3 linked regions of the Homo sapiens genome follow. The protein of the gene in region 1 interacts with the protein of each later gene in a pairwise test. Each region holds a gene or a part of one and is shown in the gene's direction. Other genes may lie near its edges. The genes, in order: TPH1, ZMYM6 and DNAJC12.

Region 1 (8,475 bases):
GAGGAACCAACAAAATTTTTCCCACAGTGGCTGAGCCATTTTATCTTCCGACCAGCAAGATAGGATCCAATTTCTCCCAGTTCTCACCAACACCTATTCTTTTCCTAAGTTTACTTTAGAACATGTGAAGATGCCAATGTATCATGTATACAAGGTAAATTATTGGATATAAAGGTCTAGAGTTCAGAAGGGAGATCTGAGTTTGAAACACACATTTTGGAGTTGTTCGCATAACAAGGGTACAGGAAAGGAGGTGCAATTGACGAGGAAGAGGGTATAGACTGGAAAGAGAAGAGGGCCCAAATCCTCACCCAGCCAGAGGAACCCTGAATACCTGGAGGGAAGAGAAAGAGGAACTCCTAAATGAAGATGGAAGAGGATCAATCCAAAGGTTCCACCAAATGAGAAACTGAGAGGTTGGAATGTGTCCCCTCTCAAATATGTTCTGCTGGAGATCTGGGGAGTGCAGCGAGGTGTCCTTTACCATCAGTGCAGTGAGCACTTTCAGTTTCTCAAAAGCCCCATCTCCAGGTCAGAGAACTCCTTCACCATAGGTTCCACAGATTAAAATGATAGGACACACTTAAGGAGAAAGACCATTTCCCATCTAAATACTGCCCAAAGTGTCTAGTTTCAGTGCCTCTCTGTGGTAGGCAAAATAATGGCATCCCCAAATTGTCCATGTCCTAATGTCTAGAAACCATGACTATGTTATCTAACATGAGAAGAGATTTTGCAAATGTGATGAATGGTTTTGAGATGGGGGATCATCCCAGATTATCTGGGTAGGCAGAATGGAAGCACAGGGTCTTTGTCACTGAAAGGAGACAAAGACTTAGATTACAAGATGCCACATTGCTTGCTTTGAAGATGGACAAAGGGGTCATGAACCAAAGAATGCAGTGACCTCTAGAAGCTGGAAAAAGCGAGGGGACAGATTCTCCCCTGAAGCCTGCAGCAGGTACCCAGCCCTGATGACATCTTGATTTGTAAGTGTCAACTACTAAGGCCTTTCCACCTCAGGGCCAGCATCCAACCTATTCTCTTGACCTCCTTGTGGATGTGCTCATTAAATGAGTTGGTGCCATCTCTCTTCTTCATCAGGGGTGGTTTAAGCCCTCCTGTAGTCCCAACTTTAGGAAAGACATCTTTTTTCTATTTTTAAATTTATTTTTATTTATAATTTTTGTGGGCATGTAGTAGGTGTATGTACTTATGGGATACATGAGATATTTTGGTAGAGGCATGCAATGTGTAATAAACACATCATTGAAAATTGGGTATCCATTCCCTCAAGCATTTATTCTTTGTGTTACAAACAATCCTATTATATTCTTTTAGTTATTTTTAAATGTGTAATTAAATTATTATTGACTATAGTCCTCCTGTTGTTCTATCAAATACTAAGCCTTTTTCATTTTTTCTGTTTTTTGGTCCCCATTAGCCATCCCCCACAACCCCCCATTCCCTGTACCTCCCACTACCCTTCCCAGCCTCTGGTAACCATCCTTCTATTCTCTGTCTCCATGAGTTTAGTTGTTCTGATTTTTAGATCCTACAAATAAGTGAGAACATGCGATGTTTGTCTCTGTGCCTGGCTTATTTCACTTAACATAATGATCTCCATTTCCATCCATGTTGTTGCAAATGACAGAATCTCATTCTTTTTTATGGCTGAATGGTACTCCATTGTGTGTAAGTACCACATTTTCTTTAACCATTCGTCTGTTGATGAACACAGGTTGTTTTCAAATCTTGACTATTGTGAACAGTGCTGCAACAAACATGAGAGTGCAGATATCTCTTCAATACGCTGATTTCCTTCCTTTGGGTATATACCCAGCAGTGGGAGTGCTGGATCATATGGTAGCTCTATTTTCAGTTTTTTGAGGCACGTCCAAACTGTTCTTCATAGTGGTCGTACTAATTTATTATACATTCCCACCAACAGTGTACAAGGGTTCCCTTTTCTCCACATCCTCTCTAGTATTTGTTATTGCCTGACCAGGGTGAGATGACATGTTATTGTAGTTTTGATTTGCATTTATCTGATGACCAAGGATGTTGAGCACCTTTTCATATGTCTATTTGCCATTTGTATGTCTTCTTTGGAGAAATGTCTATTCAAATCTTTTGACCATTTTTAATTGGATTATTAAATTTTTTCCTATAGAGCTGTTTGAACTCCTTATATATTCTGGTTATTAATCCCTTGTCAGATGGGTACTTTGCAAATATTTTCTCCCATTCTGTGAGTTGTCTCTTCTCTTTGTCAATTGTTTCCTTTGCTGTACAGAAGTTTTTTAACTTGATGTGATCCCATGCAATCATTTTTCCTTTGGTTGCCTGTGCTTGTGGGGTATCACTCAAGACATTTTTGAGTAGACTGATGTCCTGGAGTGTTTCCCCAATGTTTTCTTGCAGTGGTTTCATAGTATGAGGTCTTAGATTTGAGTCTTTAATCCATTTTGATTTGATTTTTATATATGGTGAGAGATAGGGGTCTAGTTTCATTCTTCTGATGGATATCCAGTTTTCCCAGCAGCATTTATTGGAGAGACTGTCCTTTCCCCATTGTATGTTCTTGGCAACTTTGTCAATAATGAGTTCACTGTAGGTGTGTGGATCCGTTTCTGGGTTCTCTATTTTGTTCCATTGGTCTATGTGTCTGTTTTTATGCCAGAACCATGCTGTTTTGGTTACTGTAGCTCTGCAGTATAATTTGAAGTCAGGTAATGTGATTCCTCCAGTTTTGTGCTTTTTGCTCAGGATAGCTTTGGCTGTTCTGGGTCTTTTGTGATTCCATATAAATTTTAGGGTTGTTTTTTCTATTTCTGTAAGGAAAGTCTTTGGTATTTTGATAGGGATTGCCTTGAATCTGTAGATTGCTTTGGGTAGCATGGACATTTGAACAATAAGGATTCTTCCGATCCATGAACTTGGAATAGCCTTCTGTTCTTTTGGTGTCCTCTTTAATTTCTTTCATGAGTATTTTATAGTTTTCATTGTAGAGATCTTTCACTCCTTTGGTTAATTCCTAGGTACTTATTTTATTTGTGGCTATTGTAAATGGGATTAATTTCTTTTTCATACTGTTCACCATTGGCATACAGAAACGCTATTGATTTTTGTATGTTGATTTTGTATCCTGCAACATTAGTGAATTATTTAATCAGTTCAAATAGTTTTTTGGTGGAGTCTTTAGGTTTTTCCAAATATAGGATCATATCATCTGCAAACAAGGATAATTTGACTTCTTCCTTTCCAGTTTGGATGCCCTTTATTTCTTCTCTTGTCTGATTGCTCTAGCTAGAACTTCCAGTACTATGTTGAATAATAGTGGTGAAATTGGGCATCCTTATCGTGTTCCAGATCTACAAGGAAAGGCTTTCAGTTTAGGAAAGACATCTTTGACCTCAGCTTGGTTCTGAAAGGTCTCTCCCTGACCAGTATTTTTTATGGCATTGAAGTAAGAGCACTGGATTTAAACTCAGACACTTTTGCTTGATTATTGATGGTACTTACTAGCCTGTGCCAGAATAACGTCTTAGAGCCACCCCTGTGCTTCAATTTCCGTATCTGTAAAATACAAATAATATGTACCTCATAGAAGCATTATACAGATAAAAGAAAAATGCATAGAAAAGCTGTAAAGATCCTGAGCTTTAAAGTACATCCATACTCAGCAAAAAAGAAAACAGGAAAGAAAAGGAACAAATCACTAATACCTGCATGAAACTCAAAAGCATTATGTTAAGTGCCAGGAGCCAAAAATCTGTACATATTTCATGATTTCATTTCTGTGACATTCCAGAGAAGGCAAAACTGTGGAGACAGAAATCAGATCAGTGGCTGCCAGGGGCTGGGTGTGAGGTGAGAGACTTTAGACAAGGGAAATTTCTCGCAGTGATAGAAATGTTCTATATTTTGATCGTTTGGTGGTTACACAACTATACATGTTTGTCAAAACTCAGAATTGTACACCTCACAGGGTGAATATTACTGTATGTTAATTATACATCAATAAATCTTACTTTTCAAACATTGGAGGAAAGAATGTCCTATAATATACTTCGTTATGTGTACAGTCCTTTGGGATAAGGAGCTAATCGACTGACTACTCAACCAGTAAATACCTATTCCAAATTTTTTGCCTCTATGTCCTGTTGTTCACAATAGCACGTAATATGATTTTTTGCTAATATAGAATGCTTCTCTGCTTGCAGCTTAAAATTTTTTTTTAATTAGAAGGGCACTGAACACTTCTCTTCTAAAAAGTTCAACTAACTGTTGCTCTGCCTCAAGGAATGGGGGAAAGCACCAAGAGAATAATAAGTCAGGACTGGGCTATTAAATAGCCCAGAAGCACAGAGAGGTGTGGGAGGTGGGGGGATTCTTGCTTTGGTCTCCAACAGGCGAGAAGCACTGCAGTCCTATAGCAGGTCATTGTGTCGATAATAGGCGTTATCTTGGTTTGGAGAGAATGTCCAACTCTGGATTGTTCAGTGTTAGTCAGACTTGTGTGGTTAAGGACGGCCTAACATTCACTTAATTAAAACACCAGTCAGATACACGCAGAGATTGAGGCGTGCAAGTCTCTGGGAGCAGGCGGACGCGACTGCCCACGCCCCACACCCGCCGGCCCTCCCTTCTCATTGGCCGCTGCCCAGCTGCTCCGACGCCCGCTTCTATAAGAGACAGGCAGCGCGGGGCCGCCGGCCGACCCAGCCTGCACCTACTGGCGCCCGAGGTGAGTGAGGCGGCCCTTCCCGCGGGCACCGGGGACCGCCGTCGAGGCTTTGGCGGCGCTTGGCAGGCGCGGGGCTGGGCAGAGTCACCCTCCCGGGAGGTAAATTGGTGGTCTTGCGGAGTCAGATTTGGGAGGTCGGAGTTGTACCCCTATAAACGCTTACTATTCTTTCCTCCCACGCTGTTTGGGGAGAAAAGACACTTTCTGAGTGCCTCCTGTGTGCCAGGAACAGACTCTTTAGCCATCATGAGATTTCACCTTCATGACAAACTCTGGTAGATATTTCTTGAGTCCCCAGATGAGGAAAGTGGGGTCCAGAGTCCAACCCAAGTCTGTGTGACTCCTCTATGTTGGCAGAAACAGTAAGATTTTTCTTCCTTCCCTTCCTCTCCATCAAAGGGCAATGTCTCTTTTTTTCTTCTCCTCCCATGAAGGGAAGCTTCCCTTAAACAGCCTCCCGAAGAAGAAGGAGTCTCAGATGCAAAGCTTCTCAGCATCGCACTTACCATCATCACCACCATCCCAACAGACGACTGAGAGCTTTTTGCAAGGTCGCAATTGACAAAGAGGACTAGGTCCTTGCGGTTTAGAGTCAGTTAAGAGTCCGTGTGAACTCAACCTTGCCTTTGGCGTTTGATTTTCAGAGGTTTAAAATGAACTTCTCATTGATGTCCCACTCTACTTGACTTAGCAGGAAAAAGACTAGAGTTGAACTTGCTAACCCAGGAAAAGTTTGTGCCTGTTAGTTAAAAAAAAAAGGGGGGGGTGGAATTCTAATATCAATGTTTCTGTAAAGTTATAATCTGTGGTTTACATATGTTATCACTGAGGTCCATTTGTACATGTATTATTAGATTATCTCCAGATAGGGATGTGTCTTCTATTTCCATTTTCTCTGCCAGTGCCTTTATTTCCTAGAATACTGTTTTTCATGGATAGTGTTTTCTTTTGTATTTCATCTACACTTTCATCCTCATTCCCACTCCTTATTTAGAAAAGAAAATCAAGACTCCGTAGAGGATTCCCTCCCTCTGAAAGAATCCTCCTTGCAGTTTTTAGTTCTGTCTTCAAACAATATCCATGCTTTCAAAAGACTAATTCAGTAGTGCTTTGTGCTTCCTAGATCCGGTAAATATAAATTACACTTGTTTTACTGATTAAACTAAGGGAAGAAAAGAGTTGGTCATTGTATACGCCTTGACCTCTCCCAAGGGTCGGGTCTGTTGATCTTCTGAGTGTCTTCTTGGTATTTTTTCCTTATTTCCAGTGGTATGTCCTACACAGTGCATCCTTAGGCCAGGAGACGCAGTAGGAAAATGACTCTACCTTTCATGAGAAAAGGGTACCAGTTGGTATTAGCTGATCAGAGAGTTGCTTTAAAAATAAAATGCTTATGTATTGATGAGACACTGATTCAAACAAGTGTGACCTATTTTATCTTACCAGGTTAGTATTGTGTTTTTTTGTTTTGTTTTGTTTTGTTTTGTTTTCCTGAAAGAGTAGGAGGAGGTGGGTAGGTTGAAAGGGGAAAGGAAAAAGTAACAAGGCAAAATATTGAGGTTCTGAAAGCGGTTTGGGGTTAACTGGAGGAAAAAATAACTGATGCCTCATAAGCTCTGTCAACCAAGCAAAGTTATGGCCAAGTTTTAGTAACGATCAAAGATCTATGTCCTGTAAGATTATTTTGGGGTGGGGGGGAACAAAAAAGAGGGTGAGAATTTTCTTCTAGTTTTCTAGTTTCTTAGCAAAAGTTCCTTTTGAGAACCTTCATTTTTACCATGACTTAAACAAGGAGGAGTGTTTCCACATCTTTTTTTTTGAGACGCAGTCTTGCTCTGTCACCTGGGCTGGAGTGCAGTGGCGTGATCCTGGCTCACTGCAACCTCCGCCTCCCAGGTTCAAGCCATTCTCCTACCTCAGCCTCCCAAGTAGCTGGGACTACAGGCGCCCGCCACCACACCCAGCCAATTTTTGTATTTTTAGTAGAGACGGGGTTTCACCATGTTGGCCAGGATGGTCTCGCTCTCTTGACCTCATGATTCGCCCGCCTCGGCCTCCTAAAGTGCTGGGAATTACAGGTGTGAGCCACTTACATCTTAATATAATAATGTATGTCTTTAAATACATCAAAATAATATAAATGCCTTGCATATCATAAATTTCAATTAATGTATCCTTCACCCTCCTCTCCCCACACCAACTAAGGAGATGTTGGCACAAAACTTGATCCATTCCAGAATCAGGTAAAGAAAATAATTATGAACCCTAAAGGGATGGAGCCATGACTGTTAGCACCTTCTCACAATAGCAACTTCCAGGAAAGCTTAGGGACCAGTTTTGAAAATTGAAGGAAATTCTCTTTTTTTTTTTTTTAAGAGACAGGGTTTCACTCTGTCACCCAGGCTGGACTGCAGTGGCGCGATCATGGATCACTGCAGCCTAGAACTCCTGAGCTCAAGCAAGCCTCCTGCCTCAGCCTCCCTAGTAGCTGGGACTGCAGGTGAAAGCCACTATGCCCAGCTAACTTAAACAATTTTTTTTGTTGTTGTTGTTCATACAGCATCTCACTATGTTACCCAGGCTCTTCATAATAGTTTTTGTTGTTGTTGTTGTTTGTTTGTTTTTGTTTTTGTTTTTTGAGACGGAGTCTCACTCTACTGCCCTGCCAGAGTGCAGCGACACGATCTTGCTCCCTGCAACCTCTGCCTCCTGAGTTCAAACGATTTTCATGCCTCAGCCTCCCGAGTAGCTGGGATTACATGCATGTGTCATCATGCCAGGCTAATTTTTGTATTTTTAGTAGAGACGGGGTTTCACCATGTTGGCCAGGCTGGTCTTCAACTCCTGACCTCAAGTGATCCACCCACTTTGGCTTTCCAATGTGCTGGGATTACAGGCATGAGCCGCAGCAGCTGGCCTCATATAGTTTTATATGAAGAGTTTTATTCCAAGCTCCAAGAGGTTGTTGAAAGACAAATTATCAGGAGATCTAGAATTCTGTTAGTGTTACCACTGACTGGAAAAAATCAGTGGTAACTTTTCTTTACTGTTCTCTGATCCTTGCTCCCAGTTCTTAAAGCTGATTTACATGATGAAGCTAGTGGTTGGCCAGGAAATAGCTTATATTTGCAGAATCCTCTTCCTTCTGCATGTCATGGTGATGGTATCAGGAAACATGAGGACTCAGTAACTATAGGGTAACTCAGTACATTTTACTTTGGGGTCTTTGTCTATTTGTTTGCAAAAAAACTGCTGAATTATTTTCTTGAGATTTGGAATTTAATACACTTTAGGGGTTTTATAATAAATTAATGAAACTGAAATCACCTTGATACAAAACAATACTGACATTTTATATCATAAAGCAACTTTTCCACATGTTTGCTATTGTAAGAAATATGTTAACCATCTTGTAAAATGCCTAATTCCTAGGGCAAGAAAAATTCTTAGCCAGAGGTATTTAGAATGTCTATTTCATTACTTGAACATTTTCTCTTTTTTTGAAAACTGGAAAATTTGGGACATATTCCCCATTACTTGAGATAATACTTATTGAGTACTTAGTGTAGGTTAGCAACTGTTCTAAGAGTTTTATGTAAATTATAACTATTTAATTCTCATAAGTTTATATATGTTTAATCCTCCTTATAATCATGAGAGTGGTGTTAATTATCCTCCCTCCAAGTTTGCAAATAAAGAGGTTGATACATATAAAGATTATAACT
Region 2 (8,077 bases), on another chromosome or scaffold:
AACAACAACAATAAAAATAGCTGGCATTAGTATATCAGTATGTAGTATATATTATATCATAATCATATGTGACATTATTAACTTAATATTTATATATGCTTAAGAGTGTGTCAGGCACCATTCTTACCACCATATTATTATCCCCATTTTACAGATGAGGAAACCAAAGCTCAAAAAAGCCAAATAGTTTACCACAGATCACAGTTAGTAGTAAATGACAAAGACTGGATTCAAATCCAGGTGGTCAGACTCCAGAACTTGTGCTATTCTGCTTCTCTATGATAAGGCTGTATATATAGTTTAAGGCTGGATTATGTAGGACGTAGCAGACCTTGTTATAAATTTTGGTTTTTATCCTAAGAGCAGTAGATAGCCATTATAGGGTTTTTTGTTTTTGTTTTGAGATGGAGTTTTGCTGCAATGTTGTAATCTTGGTGGCTCACTGCAACTTTCACATCCCGGGTTCAAGTGATTCTCCTGCCTCAGCCTCCCCAGTAGCTGGGATTATAGGCGCCTGCCACCACGCCTGGCTAATTTTTTGTATTTTTAGTAGAGACGGGGTTTCACCATGTTGGCTAGGCTGGTTTCAAACTCCTGACCTCAGGTGATCCACCCACCTCAGCCTCCCAAAGTGCTAGGATTACAGGCGTGAGCCACCACACCTGGCCAATTGTAGGGTTTTAAGTGAGAAAGTAAGATGAAACAGATTTGTGTTTGGAAAGATCATTCTGGCTACCCCATAGGGACCCAGAATGGAGAGCACGGAAATCAATGTGGAGGCTGGGCACAGTGGCTCACGTCTGTAATCCTAGCACTTTGGGAGGCCAAGGCAGGCAGATCACGAGGTCAGGAGATCGAGACCATCCTGGCTAACACGGTGAAACCCCGTCTCTACAAAAAATACAAAAAATTAGCTGGGCGTGGTGGTGGGCGCCTGTAGTCCCAGCTACTTGGGAGGCTGAGGCAGGAGAATGGCGTGAACCCAGGAGGCGGAGCTTGCAGTGAGCCAAGATTGCGCCACTGCACTCTAGCCTGGGTGACAGAGTGAGACTCCGTCTCAAAAAAAAATAAAATAAAATCAATGGGAGAGATGAGTTAGTTGTTTTGGCAAGGAATTTTTCTTCTGGGACAGTTCTTTCGCTTTACACTCAAAGTTATTGACTTTATTGTATCAGCAAAGCAATTATATTTTAAAATAATAAAAAACAATTTTATTTTTCACACCATCTCACAGGCAGTATCATTCCTTTTTTTTTTTTGAGATGGAGTCTTGCTCTGTCACTCCCAGGCTGGAGTGCAGTGGCGCGATCTTGGCTCACTGCAACCTCCGCCTCCCAGGTTCAAGCGATTCTCCTGCCTCAGCCTCCTGAGTAGCTGGGATTACAGGTGTGCGCCACCACGCCTGGCTAATTTTTTATATTTTTGTTAGAGACTGGGTTTCGCCATGTTGGCCAGATTGGTCTCAAAACTCCTGACCTCAAGTGCTCTGCCCACCTCGGCTTCTCAAAGTGCTGGGATTATGGTTGTAAGCCACCATGCCCAGCCACAGGCAGTATCATAAGAAGACAGGGATGTCAGGTAGGTTTTGTTTCACTCATGAACTCTATGCCTTGCTAGAGTGCTGGGCTAAGAAGAGTTCTGAGGTAGTGTCTGTTAGATGTGGAGTGGGGGATGGTGGCATCCATGCTACTTGTTTTCCCTCCAGATGGTAAATTCTTACTCTTTCTCTGCCTAAAGTAACCATTTCTTTGCCAGGTTTTGTGGTTTTTAGCTTTTAAATATTTTTTGTATCTGACCCATGATGTTCTTCTATATTTCATTATTTCTCTCTCTCTTTTTTTTGTTTCCTTTTTTTGAGACAGGGTCTCACTTTGTTGCCCATACTGGAGTGCAGTGGTGTGAGTATGGCCACTGCACTCTAAACGATCCTCCCATCTCAGCCTCCCAGGTAGCTGACCACAAACATGCTCCACCACACCCAGCTAGTTTTTGTAGAGACGGGGTCTCCTTATGTTGCCCAGGCTGGTCCTGAACTCCTGACCTCAAGCAATCCTCCTGCCTTGGCCTCCCAAAGTGCTGGGATTACAGGCATGAGCCATCATGCCTGAACTATTTCATTATTTTTCATTTGGACTTTTATAATAGTTTCCTACCTATTCTCCTTCCTTCAGTCACATATCCCATCAAAACACTCTACAGTGATGCCATTGTACTGTATAGATCGAGTGATATTTCTCCCTTTAAAGACCCTGTTTCCTCCAGTGTGATGAAGCAAAGATCTTTCAATGTGACATCCAAACCATCCATGTTTAGGCCTTTGTTTCCCTCTCCAGTGTCATCATTCATTGTTTCCACCTTTTCAAATCTATGCTGCTGCCAGCTATTTGCAGTTCACTCAAAACTATCTTCTAAAACTCGGTTGCATTTTATTTCCCTGCCTTTGCACCTGCCATTTCTTGTGCCGGTGGAAGAAGAAATAAGCTAGGTAGGCTGGCAAAATTTTGTCCTCTTTTAAGATGAAGTTTCTCACTCACAAGTAGAATGAGCTGTTCTCTCTCTCTTTTTTTTAATTGTATAGTGCAATCACTTTTATTATGGTATCTACAGGTCAATGAATTTTGTCTTCATACTGATTATACTAATCTGGCCATCTCCTCCTCATCTTTCATTGACACACTAGACTGCAGTCTCTCTGAAGTCAGAAATTGGTCTTATTGACCTGAATCTCCAATTCCTAGCACAGGATTTGGCACAAAGTACATGTTCAATAATTGGAATAAAAGAGCCTCTTTCACATATAAGGAAGCTGAACCTGAAGGAATAAGTGACTTCACCAGTGTCTCATGGTAAAACTGGGATACAACAGTTTGTTGTTACTCCAGATGCAATATTTCTTTCATTATACCTTGCCTATACACTTAACAAATAATGTGCTTTAAGTTAATTCAATGTTCTTTCTGAATATAAAAATTGTGATAATGGAAATCTCCCTAGCAGCTTAGATTGTATATTTAAGAGGGTAGGAACTGCTCAGTTGTCTTTGGTTTATATTAATGTTTTCAGGTGAATAGGCTATATTTTTTCATGATTGAGGGTATAGACTATGATTGAAAAGCCAATTGAACAAATTGTGTATTATTTTCTATGTTGCATTGATGAATCTCCTTTGAATATTGGAAAATAAGAGATAAATAAAAATGTTTTTTATTTTCTGATTTTCTAAGAGTTTGTTCTGGATATTAAAATTATAGTTGAAGGCCAGGCGCGGTGGCTTGTGCCTGTAACCCCAGCAGTTTGGGAGGCTGAGGTGGGCAGATCCCTTGAGGTCAGGAGTTCAAGACCACCCTGGCCAACCTGGTGAAACCCTGTCTCTACTAAAAATACAACAATTAGCCGGGCGCGGTGGTGGGCGCCTGTCATCCCAGCTACTCAGGAGGCTGAGGCATGAGAATCACTTGAACCTGGGAGGCGGAGGTTGCAGTGAACTGAGATTGCGCCACTGCACTCCAATCTGGACGACAAAGGGAGACTCCATCTAAAAAAAAAAAGTTGCAGTTTAGTCCTTATATTCATATATGTTGAGTATTCATATTCATTCAGTGAGTTTTTATTCCTGCCTGCTGTAATCCATAATACTTGAACATTGTTGTGAGCAGTTTACATACCTTAATCCATTCGATGCTCACAACCCTCAGTTAAGTACTGTTTCTCTTCCCACTTTACCCATGAGGAAGCTGAGTCCTAGATAGTAACCCGTTAAAAGTCACATAATTAATAAATGGTTGAGTCAGGATTTGGACTCCAGCAGTCTGATTCAAGAGCCCAAACCCTTAACCAGGATGGTAAACTGTATTAGTTACTTTGTTTTCAGAAAGGCTACAGAGATGAAAAGATAGGACTTCTGCTCTCAAGGTAATTGATAGTGTAATGGAGAGAAAAGTTATGAGAATGAGAGAAGTAATATTTGTTGAGTGACTGTGCCTTGTGAGAAGCTATGCTAAGCATATCTTATGCATTCTCATTTAAACCTAATTGTCTTCAAACTTGTATGCTTTCTGCTGCTTTGTGCCACCTTTTTTTTTTCTTTCTTTTTTTTTTTTTTTTTTTTTTGGGATGGAGTCTTGCTTTGTAGCCCAGGCTGAAGTGCAGTGGCGCCATCTCGGTTCACTGCAACCTCCACCTCCTGGGTTCACGCAGTTCTCCTGCCTCAGCCTGCCGAGTAGCTGGGATTACAGGTGCCCACCACCACACCTGGCTAATTTTTGTATTTTTAATAGAGACGGGGTTTCACCATGTTGGCCGGCTGGTCTCGAACTCTACCTGCCTCGGCCTCCCAAAGTGCTGGGGTTACAGGCGTGAGCCACCGTGCCTGGCCTGTGCCACCTTTTGTGCAAATACAAAATCAAGGCCATGAGTGGTGGCTCATACCTGTAATCCCAGCACTTTGGGAGGCCGAGGTAGGTGGCTCACTTGAGGTCAGGAGTTCAAGACCAGCCTGGCCAACACGGTGAAACCACAACTCTACTAAAAATACAAAAAAATTAGCCAGGCTTCGTGGCACATGCCTGTGATCTCAGCTACTGGGGAGGCTGAGGCAGGAGAATCACTTGAACCCAGGAGGCGGAGGCTGCAGTGAACAGAGATTGCTCCACTGCACTCCAGCCTGGGCAACAGAGCAATATTCCATCTGAAAAAAAAAAAATACAAAATCACAGTCTTAGGTAAGTGCTTTAAAATTGTGTGAGGTGCATTGGGAGCATAGGGGAAGGAGCCCTAAATCTATATGGGAAGGAGAGGAAGGTTTCACATAGCAGGTAGCAATTGTATTATAAAAATTGACTAAGAGTTTCAGACAGAGAAAATATAGCAGAGAAAATAGCCACGTCATGGAGGGGTGAGAGAATGTGGTGTGTTTAATAGTTGAGTATCAACAATAAAGTGGGAAAAGATAATAGATTTAAAAATGGTTAGGTAGGATTGATCAAATTTAGAGATTGTTTATGGGTGTGAAGGTCAAAGAGGAGTCCAAGGATACTTACAGGTTTTGGGGTTTATGGTGATACCATTTACTGAGGGGTTAGAACAGGATTTTGGAGGAAGTACTAAGTGCAGTTTGAGGTCTGTTGTGTTTAAAGGGCTTGTGGGACATTCAAGTGGTAAACTGCACAAGGAGGCATTTGCACATAAAAATCTGGGATTTGAGATTAGAAAGTTATCTACTTGGAGATGTAGGGCTTCCAGATAAAATACAGGATGCCAGGTTAAATTTGACTATCAAATAAACAATGGTGATTTTTACTATAAGTGTATTGCTTGCAATACTTGGAACATAATTATTCTAAAATAGCACTATTTCAGCTATAGCTAAAAAGAAGGTTTCCTTTTCCTGTAAGATAGCAGGACAGTTTGCTGAGCAATTTGTAGGTAAGGTGGAGGGGGCTGAGGGATGTTGAGGGAGTTCTTAGTTACTTGTTTTTACCTGGTGCAATTGAAACATCAATGAGCAGGAAAGATGTGGAGTTGGGACTCGTGAGCTATGAAGGTTTAGAAAAATTACTTTGTGAGGTAAAAGAAACTGGTCAGGGAAATATAACAGAAATACTAGAAAAATTTTAGAAATTGAGTTGATAAGGCAAAGAAATTTTTATTGAATCTGGCCGGGCGCGGTGGCTCATGCCTATAATCCCAGCACTTTGGGAGGCCGAGACGGGCAGATCACGAGGTCAGGAGATCGAGACCATCCTGGCTAACACGGTGAAACCCCGTCTCTACTAAAAATACAAAAAAATTAGCCAGGCATGGTGGTGGGCGCCTGTAGTCCCAGCTACTCCGGAGGCTGAGGCAGGAGAATGTCGTGAACCTGGGAGGCGGAGCTTGTAGTGAGCCGAGATCGTCCACTGCATTCCAGCATGGGTGACAGAGCGAGATTCTGTCTCCAAAAAAAAAAAAAAAATTTTATTGAATCTTAAACACTCATTTTGGTAATTTGAAGATGTATATAATATTTTTAATGTCCTCTTCATTTTGCAAGTGTCAATAAATATTGTTATTTAAGTATAATGTTTAAGAACATGCACTTTGGATTGAATAGACTTAGATTCCTTCATTTAGCAAGTATTTATTAAATGCCAGTTATGAAACTAATAAATAAGTATGAGAACTAGCATTTTGGCCAGGTGCAGTGGCTCACGCCTGTACTCCCAGCACTCTGGGAGGCCAAGGCGGGCAGATCACCTGAGGTCAGGAGTTCGAGACCAGCCTGACCAACATGGAGAAACCCCGTCTCTACTAAAAATACAAAATTAGCCAGGCGTGGTGGCGCATGCCTGTAATCCCAGCTACTGGGGAGGCCGAGGGAGGAGAATCGATTGAACCCTGGAGGTGGAGGTTGTGGTGAGCTGAGATCCGCCATTGCACTCCAGCCTGGGCAACAAGAGCGAAACTCCATCTCAAAAGAAAAAAAAAAAGAACTAGCATTTTGTGTACATATCGTGCTTGCTTTTGACTAACTGTAAGATGTCATTCTGTATACCTTATTTATATTAAGTCATTTGCCCCCTCCCTCCCCGTTGGCCCTATGGGTTAGGTAATATTATCTTTATTTTACAGATAAAGAAATTGAAACTAAGAAAGATTAAATAGCTTGTTTAGGAGTCAAGATCATATCTGTTTCTGTCTGCTGTTAGAACCTATAGTCATTACTGTTATGTTGACTGTGTTGGGCGATTGGGTATACAGGGGTGAGAAAAACAGGTATTGTCCATAATGGATGTGATCTTTTTAGTCTAATGTGTGTGTAGGGGGAAGGATGAATGTTAAGCATTAATCAAATTATCCAAATAAGCAATGAAATGATTTACTATGGTAACTGCTGTGAGAGAAAGGAGATGGGAGAGACTACTGCAACAGGGGAACTTAATTTCAGTTGGACCAGAGTTTGAATTCATTGTAGTAATTACTTTATATTTTCACATCTATGACAGTGCTATCTTGGGTTTTAGAACAGAGAGACTGGCTGGGTGCGGTGGCTCATGCCTGTAATCCCAGCACTTTGGGAGGTGGAGGTGGGTGGGTCACCTGAGGTCAGGAGTTCAAGACCAGCCTGACCAACATGGTGAAACTCTGTCTCTACTAAAAATACAAAAATTAGCTGGGCATGGTGGTGAGTGCCTGTAATCCCAGCTACCCAGGAGGCTGAGGATCACTTGAACCCGGGAGGGAGAGGTTGCAGTGAGCCGAGATGGCACCATTGCACTCCAGCCTGGGCTACAGAGCGAGACTCCGTCTCAAAAAGAAAAAAAAAACAAAACAGAGAGACTGGGTTTGATTCCCATCTGTGCACGTAGTCTCTTTGTGACCTTGGGCAAGTTGCTGAACATCTCTTAGCTTCACTTTCCTCATCTATAAAGAAGGCATATCTTATAGAGAGCACCTCTTTGGGTGCTCATAATACATATCATGGGAAGTGGTGAATTAATGCAATGGTTCCTAGTTTTTGGCATTTAATAGTCTAAAGAAATTTCTAAAGTAACTTTGGAACTAACATAGCTACTCATTTATTTTGCTATGTGTGGAGAGATTAAAAATACAACTGCCATTTATTACCATCATTGATTCAGAAAAGTAAGACTTTTTAAAAAACTTCCTGTTTTGAAATATGTAAGGGTATTTTAACATTAAAAAAAAGGATGGTTGCAATTTCAGAATAAAGATAGGCATTTACATTTTAAAAATGTTTCATGATTACATTTTGTTTTAAAACGTTTTAAAGAATGTGGTAAGAATAAATAGGATTTTGTCTGTGATGATTTTATGTATAATGAGCAGATTGCATTGACACTCTTGTATCTTTTCTGCCATTAACAGAAAAGGCAGCTTGTAAATCTAAAATGATTGAAATCCAAACTCTAAATCATTCAGATTTAACTTTTCTTTTTTTCTTTTTCTTTTTTTTTTTGAGGCAGAGGCTCGCTCTGTTGCCCAGGCTGGAGTGCAGTGGCACAATCTTGGCTTACTGCAGCCTCCTCCTCCCGGGTTCAAGTGATTCTCCTGCCTCAGCCTCCTGGGTAGCTGGGAC
Region 3 (8,831 bases), on another chromosome or scaffold:
GAGATACAGGCATTGGGCAAACATTCCCTTTCCAAAAGGAAGAAATCAGCTAAAAGAAAGGAGCAACATGCCGGGTGCTGTGGCTCATGCTTGTAATCCCAGCACCTTGGGAGGCTGAGGAGGGTGGATCACCTGACGTCAGGAGTTGGAAACCAGCCTGGCCAACATGGTGAAACCCCGTCTCTACTAAAAATACAAAAATTAGCCGGGTGTGATGGCACATGCCTGTAATCCCAGCTACTCAGGGAGGATGAGGCAGGGGAATAGCTTGAACCTGGGAGGTGCAGGTTGCAGCGAGCCGAGATTGTGCCACTGTACTTCAGTCTGGGCAACAGAGCAAGACTCCACCTCAAAAAAAAAAAAGGAAAAAAAAGAAAGGAGCAACAAGTCCCAAGCAAGCCTGAAACCCAGCAGGACATTCATTAAATCTTAAAGATCCAAAATAATTCTTGACTCCATGTCTCACGTCCTTGGCACACTGCTGTGAGGGGTGGGCTCCCAATCCCTTGGGCAGCCCTGCCCTTGTGGCTTTGCAGGCTGCTCTCCTGGGTTGGAGTTGAGTGCCTGTGACTCTGTGACTTTTCCAGGTGCAGGGTGTGAGCTGCCAGTGGATCTACCACTCTGGGCCGGGAAGGTGGGGGCCCTATTCCCACAGCTTCACTAGGCAGTGCCCCAGTGGGGACTCTGTGTGGGAGTTTGTATTAGGCCATTCCCACATTTTTATAAAGAAATACCTGGCCAGGTGCAGTGGCTCATGTCTGTAATCCCAGCACTTTGGGAGGCTGAGGCAGGCGGATCACAAGGTCAGGAGTTTGAAACCAGACTGGTCAGTATGGTGAAACCTTGTCCCTACTAAAAATACAAAAATTAGCTGGGCATGGTTGCTTGTGCCTGTAGTCCCAGCTACTTGAGAGGCTGAGGCAGAAGAATCGCTTGAACCCGGGGGGTGGAGGTTGCAGTGAGCCAAGACTGCGCCGTCGCACTCCAGTCTGGGTGACAGAGCAAGACTCCATCACAAAAAAAAAAAAAAAGAAAAAAGAAATACCTAAGTCCGGGTGCAGTGGCTCATGCCTGTAGTCCAGCACTTTGGGAGGCCAAGGTGGGTGGATCACGAGGTCAGGAGTTCAAGACCAGCCTGGCCAAGATGGTGAAATCCCATCTCTACTAAAAAATACAAAAAATTAGCCAGGTGTGGTGGCAGGCGCCTGTAATCCCAGCTACTCAGGAGGCTGAGGCAGAGAATTGCTCGAACCCAGGAGGCAGAGGTTGCAGTGAGCTGACATTGTGCCATTGCACTCCAGCATGGGCGACAGAGTGAGACTCTGTCTCAAAAAAAAGAAAAGAAAAGAAAAGACATACCTGGGACTGGGTAATTTATAAAGAAAAGAGATTTAATTGGCTTATGGTTCTGCAGGCTGCACAGGGAGCATAACACAGGCATCTGCTTTTGGGGATACCTCAGGAAGCTTGCAATCACAGCAGAAGGTGAAGGGGGAGCAGGCATCTCCTATGGTGGGAGCAGGAGCAAGAGAGACAGAGAGTGAAGTGATACACACTTTTGAACAGCCAGATCTCAGAGAAGTCACTCATTTTTGTGAGGACAGCATCAAGAGGATGGTGCTCAACCATTCATGAGAAATCCAGTCCCATGATCTGATCACTTCCCACCAGGCCTTACCTCCAATACTGAGGATTACAATTCAACATGAGATTCAGGCAGGGAGACTTTCCAAACTATGTTAAAGTTCCAACCTCCCATTTCCCCTCTGCACTGCCCTAGTAGAGGCTCTTGGTGAGGGCTCTGTCCCTGTGGTAGGCTTCTTCTTGGGTACCCAGGCTTTCTTATATATTCTCTGAAATCTAGGAGGAAGCTGCCAAACCTCCTTCACTCTTGCATTCTGAACACCTGCAGGCTTAACACCACATGGAAGCCACCCAAGGCTTACAGCCTGCACCCTTCTGAGCTGTGGCCTGAGCTGTACCTGGGCCCCTTTGAGCTGAGGCTGGGGCTGAAGTGGCTGGATGCAGGAAGCAGCCTCCCATAGTGGTACAGGGCAGCAGCACCCTGAGCCTGGCCCCCTAAATCATTCTTTTCTCCTGGGCCTCTAGGCCTGTGATGAGAGGGGCTGCCTCTTAGATCTCTGAAATGCCTTTGAGGTTTTTTTCTCATTGTCTTGTCTATCAGCCTCTGACCTGGCTCCCTTTCATTTATGCAAATCTCTTTAGCAAGTGGTTGCTCTGCAGTCTGCTTAGATTCTTGCCCTGAAAATGGGTTTTTGTTTTCTACCACATGGCTAGGTTGCAAATTTTCCAAACTTTTACATTCTGCTTTCCCTTTAAATATAAGTTCCAACTTTAAGTCATTTCTTTGCTTCTGCATCTGAGGATAGGCTGTTAGAAGCAGCCAGGTCACTTCTTGAACACTTTGCTGCCTAGAAATTTCTTCTGCCAGATACCCTAAGTCATCACTCTTAAGTTCAAACTTCCACAGATTCCTAGGGCATGAATACCATATAGCTTTGTTCCTTGGTAAGGCATAACAAGAGTGACCTTTATTCCAGTTCTCAATAAGTTCCTCATTTCCATCTGAGACCTCATTAGCCTGGACTTCACTGTCCATATCACCGTCAGCATTTTGGTCACAACCATTTAACCAGTCTTGCAGGAGTTCCAAACTTTCCCTCATCTTCCTGTCTTCTTGTGAGCCCTCCAAAGTCTTCCAGCCTCTGCCCATTACCCAGTTTCAAAGCTGCTCCCACTTTGTCAGGTATCTTTATAGCAAGGCCCCACTCTTTGGTACCAATTTTTTGTGTCAGGCCATTCTTGCATTGCTATGAAGGAATACCTAAGACTTGGTAATTTATACTGAAAAGACGTTTAATTGGCTCACAGTTCTGCAGAATGTGGAAGCATGGAGCCAGCATCCGTTCAGCTTCTGGGTAGGCTTCAGGGAGCTTTTACTTATGGCAGAAGGTGAAGTGGGAGTAGACATGTTACATGGTGAGAACAGGAGTAAGAGAGCCAGGGGGAAGATACCACACACTTTAAAAACTTTTAAGCCGGGTACAGTGGCTCACCCCTCTAATCCCAGCACTTTGGGAGGCCACGGCGGGTGGATCACCTGAAGTCTGGAATTTGAAACCAGCCTGACCAACATGGAGAAACCCCATCTCTACTAAAAATTCAAAATTAGTCGGGCATGGTGGCACATGCCTGTAATCCCAGCTACTCAGGAGGCTGAGGCAGGAGAATCACTTGAACCCAGGTGGAGGTTGCGGTGAGCCAAGATCACACCATTGCACTCCAGCCTGGGCAACAAGAGTGAAACTCTGTCTCAAAAAAAAAATTATATTATTAATATAAAAATAAGGACAGAGTCTCACTATGTTGCGCAGGCTGGTTTTGAACTCCTGGGCTCAAACAATCCTCCTGCCTTGGTCTCTCAAAGTGCTGGGATTACAGGCATAAGCCACTGCAACTGGCCAATACCACACTTTTTTGTTTGTTTGTGTTAGACAAGGTCGTGCTCTGTCACCCAGGCTGGAGTGCAGTGGTGTGATCTCAGCTCATTGCAGCCTCCACCTCCTGGGTTCAAGCAATTCTCGTGCCTCAGCCTCCCAAGTAGCTGAAATTACAGGCATGTGCCACCACACCCAGCTAACTTTTTTGTATTTTCAGTAGAGATGAAGTTTTGCCATGTTGGCCAGGCTGGTTTCGAACTCCTGGCCTCAAGTGATCTGCCTGCCTCGGCCTCCCAAAGTTCTGGGATTACAGGTGTGAGCCACCATGCCCAGCCCTAACATTCCATTTGTTTAGTCATCCGTTGATGGACACTTGCATTGCCTCCACTTTTTGGCTATTATGACTAATGCCTTGATGAACATGAGTATATAAATATCTTTTCAAGTTCCTGCTTTCAATTCTTTTGTGTATTTACCCAGAAGTGGAATTGTGGGGTCACATGGTAGTTCTATGTTTAATTTTTTGAGGAACCACCATACTGCTTTCCACCATGGCAACTTCACATCATTAAAAGGCCATTTATCAGTGATTTAGATCAAGATATTGTGATCTAATTTTTTTTTTTTTTTTTGAGATGGACCCTGGCTCTGTCACCCAGGCTGGAGTCCAGTGGCACGATCTCGGCTCGCTGCAACCTCCGCCTCCCAGATTCAAGCAATTCTCCTGCCTCAGCATCCTGAGTAGCTGGGACTACAGGTGCGTGCCACCATGCTTGGCTAATTTTTGTATTTTTAGTAGAGACAGGATTTCATCACATTGGTCAGGCTGGTCTCGAACCCCCGACCTCGTGATCCGCCCGCCTCGGTCTCCCAGTGCTGGGATTATGGCATGAGCCACCGTGCCTGGCCTTAAAATTCTATATAGAACTTTTAGCAAGACAGCATGTACAATGAAGGATTAGTAAAAAATGGTGTTTCAGTGCTTTTTCTTGCTTCTCTTCAGAAATAAACCTTTAAAAAGATGTATATAGGTGGGCTAAAAGAAAAACTATTTTTTCCCCTCAGGTGGGGGAATTTAAAGTGTTAAGGGCCAGGCATGTTGGCTCACATCTGTAATCGCAGCACTTTGGGAGGCCAAAGTGGGAGGATCACTTGAGTCCAGGGGTTTAAGACCAATCTGGGCAATATGGCGAGACCCTGTCTCTCTGAAAAATGAAACAAAAAAAGTGTTAAGGCAGTCAAAGTGTTGTGTCCCTGACCACTCACCTTGTTCTCTAAATCCCAGACCTGAACTGTGTTTCTTAGGGCCAAAATGAACTGAAACATAAATTGCCTGGACCTACCTCAGACTAGAGACACTCCTGAGTCTGGAGAACCAACCCAGGAGAAATAGCACAGCCATCTGACCCGAGTTATCATACAGTTCTTCTCATTGTCCTATTTTATTTTCTCTAAAGCACAAATCACTATTTTATTTTTTTATTTTTTGAGATGGAGTCTTGCTCTGTAGCGCAGTCTGGAGTGCAGTGGCACCATCTCGGCTCACTACAGCCTCTGCCTCCTGGGTCCAAGTGATTCTTCTGCCTCAGCCTCCCAAGTAGCTGGACTACAGGTGTGGGCCACCATGCCTGGCTTACAAATCACTATTTTAAATGATCGTGTTTTTTTTTTTTTTTTTTTTTTTTGCATGTTTTTCAGCTGTCTTCCTCCATCAGAGCGTAAGCTCCATAAAAATCAAGACTGTGTTATTGGCTGGGCGCTGTGGATCATGCCTGTAATCCCAGCACGTTGGGAGGCCGAAGCAGGCAGATCGCTTTGAGCTCACGAGTTCGAGACCAGGCTGGGCAACATGGCAAAACCCCCTCCTCTTAAAACATAACAAAACAAAAACCAAAAATTAGCTGGACATGGTGCTATGTGCCTGTGGTCCCAGCTACTAGGGAGGCTGAGGTGGGAGGATCGCTTGAGCTGGGGAGACAGAGGTTGCAGTGAGCTGAGACTGCACCACTGCACTCCAGCCTGGGCAACAGAGTGAGACCTTGTCTGAAAATAAACAAATAAAAAATAAAATTAAGTATTTTAAACACTAAGAAAAGCTCCCATTATCCTTATTAACACATCCTAAGATTTTACCACATTGCTTCACATTTTTTTTCTTTTTTTTTTTTAAAGGATAGAGACAAAAATATATAGGAGATGGAGAAGTGGCTAATGTGGCAAGTTTCTGAAAATAGACAGTCTTTATTAACTCATAAGACAAATGGTTCACATGCATCTCTTATATAAACTCAAACTACAGATCCCAGGCAGCACTGCAATAATAGACACGTGGACTGTTCTTTTCTTCTCTGTAAACAGCCAATGAGAGGCAGAGTTTACAAAGGTCTAGGATGACATCTGGTGTATTGACTGTGGCCAGTCTTAAAGCTAGTTTTTGCTATGTGGAACATGCTGCTCTAATTCAGATTTAAAGAGTTTCTTCCTGTTAATTCGAAGCTCACTGTGCCTCTTGTTTCCGAGGGAAGAAGGACTGATTAAGTCATCTAAATGGATGCAATACTGAATTACAGGTCAGAAGATACTGAAGATTACTACACATTACTGGGATGTGATGAACTATCTTCGGTAAGACAGTGGATAATATTTTTATCACAACAGTATTCTTTTTCACAATAGTATTTCAAGTTTTTATTTAAGGTTTTAACTTTGAATTTTTAGTCACATTGCCTACAAACCTAACCTTGTGTTGTTTTAAAGCACTTTTGGCTCAGAGAAAGTTAAGAATTTAAATGTATGTTGGGATTTTACTTGAATAGTGTCCTATGGGAATTTTACGGAAGCTTCTGATTAAATATGTGTATTCTGGCACATGGCCATATGCTGTTTCACAATATAGTATATTAAAAATAAATATTTGAAATTTTATTGTAATTTCTGATGGCAGTGTTTCACAGTATATATAAGCTATACCTTTATTATGGTGACTCATAATTGAGGTGAAATGAAATTTCTTATAAAATTAGGGATTTTAATATATTTTATTAAAATGTGTACTCCTATGTGAGCAGTCAAAATAGAAACAAAGAAGCATCCCTTTATGTTAATATTTCAAATTGTGTGACAGAAATTACTTCTTGAAAGGGTGGCTTCTGAAACAAAACATGTGAAAACTCTGTAGCTGTTCACTGGATCTGTAAGAAAACAAAATTTTTAAAGTTCTCAATAAACAATTATAAAGGTTGTAGAGGTTTTTTAAATTATGGAAAAATCATTTATAATTCTCTCTCCCAAGGATAACAGTATTAATATTTTGGCATATTAATCTCCACTATTCTTTCTATGTATATTCTTTAAAGACCTGTTTGGGAGGATATTATATGTACTTGTTGATTCCTGCTTTTTACCCATTCGTATTATAACAAGGAATTTTCCATGCTATTAAACTTTCCTTGTACACTTTTTAGTGGTTGCAAAATATTTTATTTTGCTGTGTTACCACAGTTGAATTATTCTCTTATTGTTAAATATTTTATTTCCAATTTTTCAATATTTCAAATAATGTTGAGATTAATATAAAATATATTCATTATTAAATTATATATTATTAAATCATGTTATTAGGATATATTTATGTTTTATAATTAATGTATTTTATTTTATTTATTTTTATTAAAATCTAAGTAGTAAAATTAACATTGTAAAGCAAAATGTTTTTATATTTATTGTTGTTTCATAAAGGCAGTAGTTCATTAATAAAATGTGCTTAGTTTTGTTTTAAGAATAGAATGCATTACTGGACACAAAGGATTAAAATCTCTATTTTTGCCATGCTGAGGAAGTTATCTTAGACACGTTGAAATTAAAAAAACTGCCCCGCCCCCAGAATAGCTTATAATGGTCTTTTAGTTGCATATTTCTTCTCAAGAATGTGTTATTCTTGTTTATGTTGGTGGTGATTTGCTTATAGCAATTGAGAAAGCTTATTACCATTTTTACCATGTGTTATTCACAGTTGAAATTATACTATTATCAAACAATTTTTGAAGGAATAATTTAAAATCAAAGGAATATAATTTAACTTGATAAGGCTGACAATTTGGATTTAAAAAAATACATGCTAGCTTATACAGTAAGGGTCATTATATCTCCATAATCTTGTGACCTATTTAGTCAGTCCTTTTTTTTTTTTTTCAATTTTACTTTAAGTTCTGGGATCCCTGTGCAGAATGTGCAGGTTTGTTACATAGATACACATGTGCCAGGGTGGTTTGCTGCACCTATCAACCCATCATCTAGGTTTTAAGCCCCGCATACATTAGGTATTTGTCCTAATGCTGTCCCTCCCCTTCTCCCCCACCCCCCGACAGGCCCCGGTGTGTGATGTTCCCCTGCCTGTGTCCATGTGCTCTCATTGTTCATCTCCCACTTATGAGTGAGAACATGTGGTGTTTGGTTTTCTGTTCCTGTGTTAGTTTGCTGAGAATGATGGTTTCCAGCTTCATCCATGTCCCTGCAAAGGACATGAACTCATTCTTTTTTATGGCTGCATAGTCAGTCTTTTGAAGTTATGCTGTTGTCTTTTCAATCTACATAGAAGGAGGATTCATTTTGGACAGCCTTACAGAAAATAATCTCGTTGTTAATGTGTAATATTCAAAATATGGTTACCAGGTGGAGTCATACTTCCTTGTCTCAACATTCCTTTTACTGGATGTATTTTACTGGTCTGTCAATGGCATATCATATCTAGATAACAATTATTTATTTTTAATGAAATGTTTGTCATAATATTGTCACTTCTTTATATATATGTGTGTGTGTGTGTGTGTGTGTGTGTGTGTCATTTTTTCTCTCTTTTTTTTGTTTTTTTGAGATGGAGTCTCACTCTGTTGCCGGGCTGGAGTGCAGTGGTGCAATCTCAGGTCACTGCAACCTCCGCCTCCCAGGTTCAAGTGATTCTCCTTCCTCAGCTTCCTGAGTAGCTGGGACTACAGGCACATGCCACCATGCCTAGCTAATTTTTGTATTTTTAGTAGAGACGGGGTTTCACCGTGTTGGCCAGGATGGTCTTCATCTCTTGACCTCGTGATCTGCCTACCTCGGCCTCCTAAAATACTGGGATTACAGACGTGAGCCACCGCACCTGGCTTTTCTCTTCTTTTTATAGGTATGCTTCTCATTTCAAAAATATTTTTATGACATTTTTGACTAATATGACATTTCCTTTACTTGATTTGTATTGGATAGATTGCCTTTACTTCAGGTATTCCTTCATTTGATGCTCTAAAATTAACCAGAACTCATCATGCCCGAAAGCATTTTAGCTGTTATAATTTCAAAACAATTTGATATTCTAATTTTACTTATCAC

Evidence for each region.
Region 2: the proteins of TPH1 (region 1) and ZMYM6 interact in binary tests that used the Homo sapiens proteins (3 or more experiments, as listed by UniProt).
Region 3: the proteins of TPH1 (region 1) and DNAJC12 interact in binary tests that used the Homo sapiens proteins (3 or more experiments, as listed by UniProt).

The regions. Positions count from the first base shown.
Region 1 is NC_000011.10:18,042,516-18,050,990, reverse strand, and holds the start of TPH1 (tryptophan 5-hydroxylase 1), read left to right. Parts: upstream 1-4,721; 5' UTR 4,722-4,750; intron 4,751-8,475. UniProt on the Homo sapiens protein: Oxidizes L-tryptophan to 5-hydroxy-l-tryptophan in the rate-determining step of serotonin biosynthesis.
Region 2 is NC_000001.11:35,021,500-35,029,576, reverse strand, and holds part of ZMYM6 (zinc finger MYM-type protein 6), read left to right. Parts: intron 1-8,077. UniProt on the Homo sapiens protein: Plays a role in the regulation of cell morphology and cytoskeletal organization.
Region 3 is NC_000010.11:67,835,189-67,844,019, reverse strand, and holds the start of DNAJC12 (dnaJ homolog subfamily C member 12), read left to right. Parts: upstream 1-5,831; 5' UTR 5,832-6,008; coding exon 6,009-6,086; intron 6,087-8,831. UniProt on the Homo sapiens protein: Probable co-chaperone that participates in the proper folding of biopterin-dependent aromatic amino acid hydroxylases, which include phenylalanine-4-hydroxylase (PAH), tyrosine 3-monooxygenase (TH) and peripheral and neuronal tryptophan hydroxylases (TPH1 and TPH2).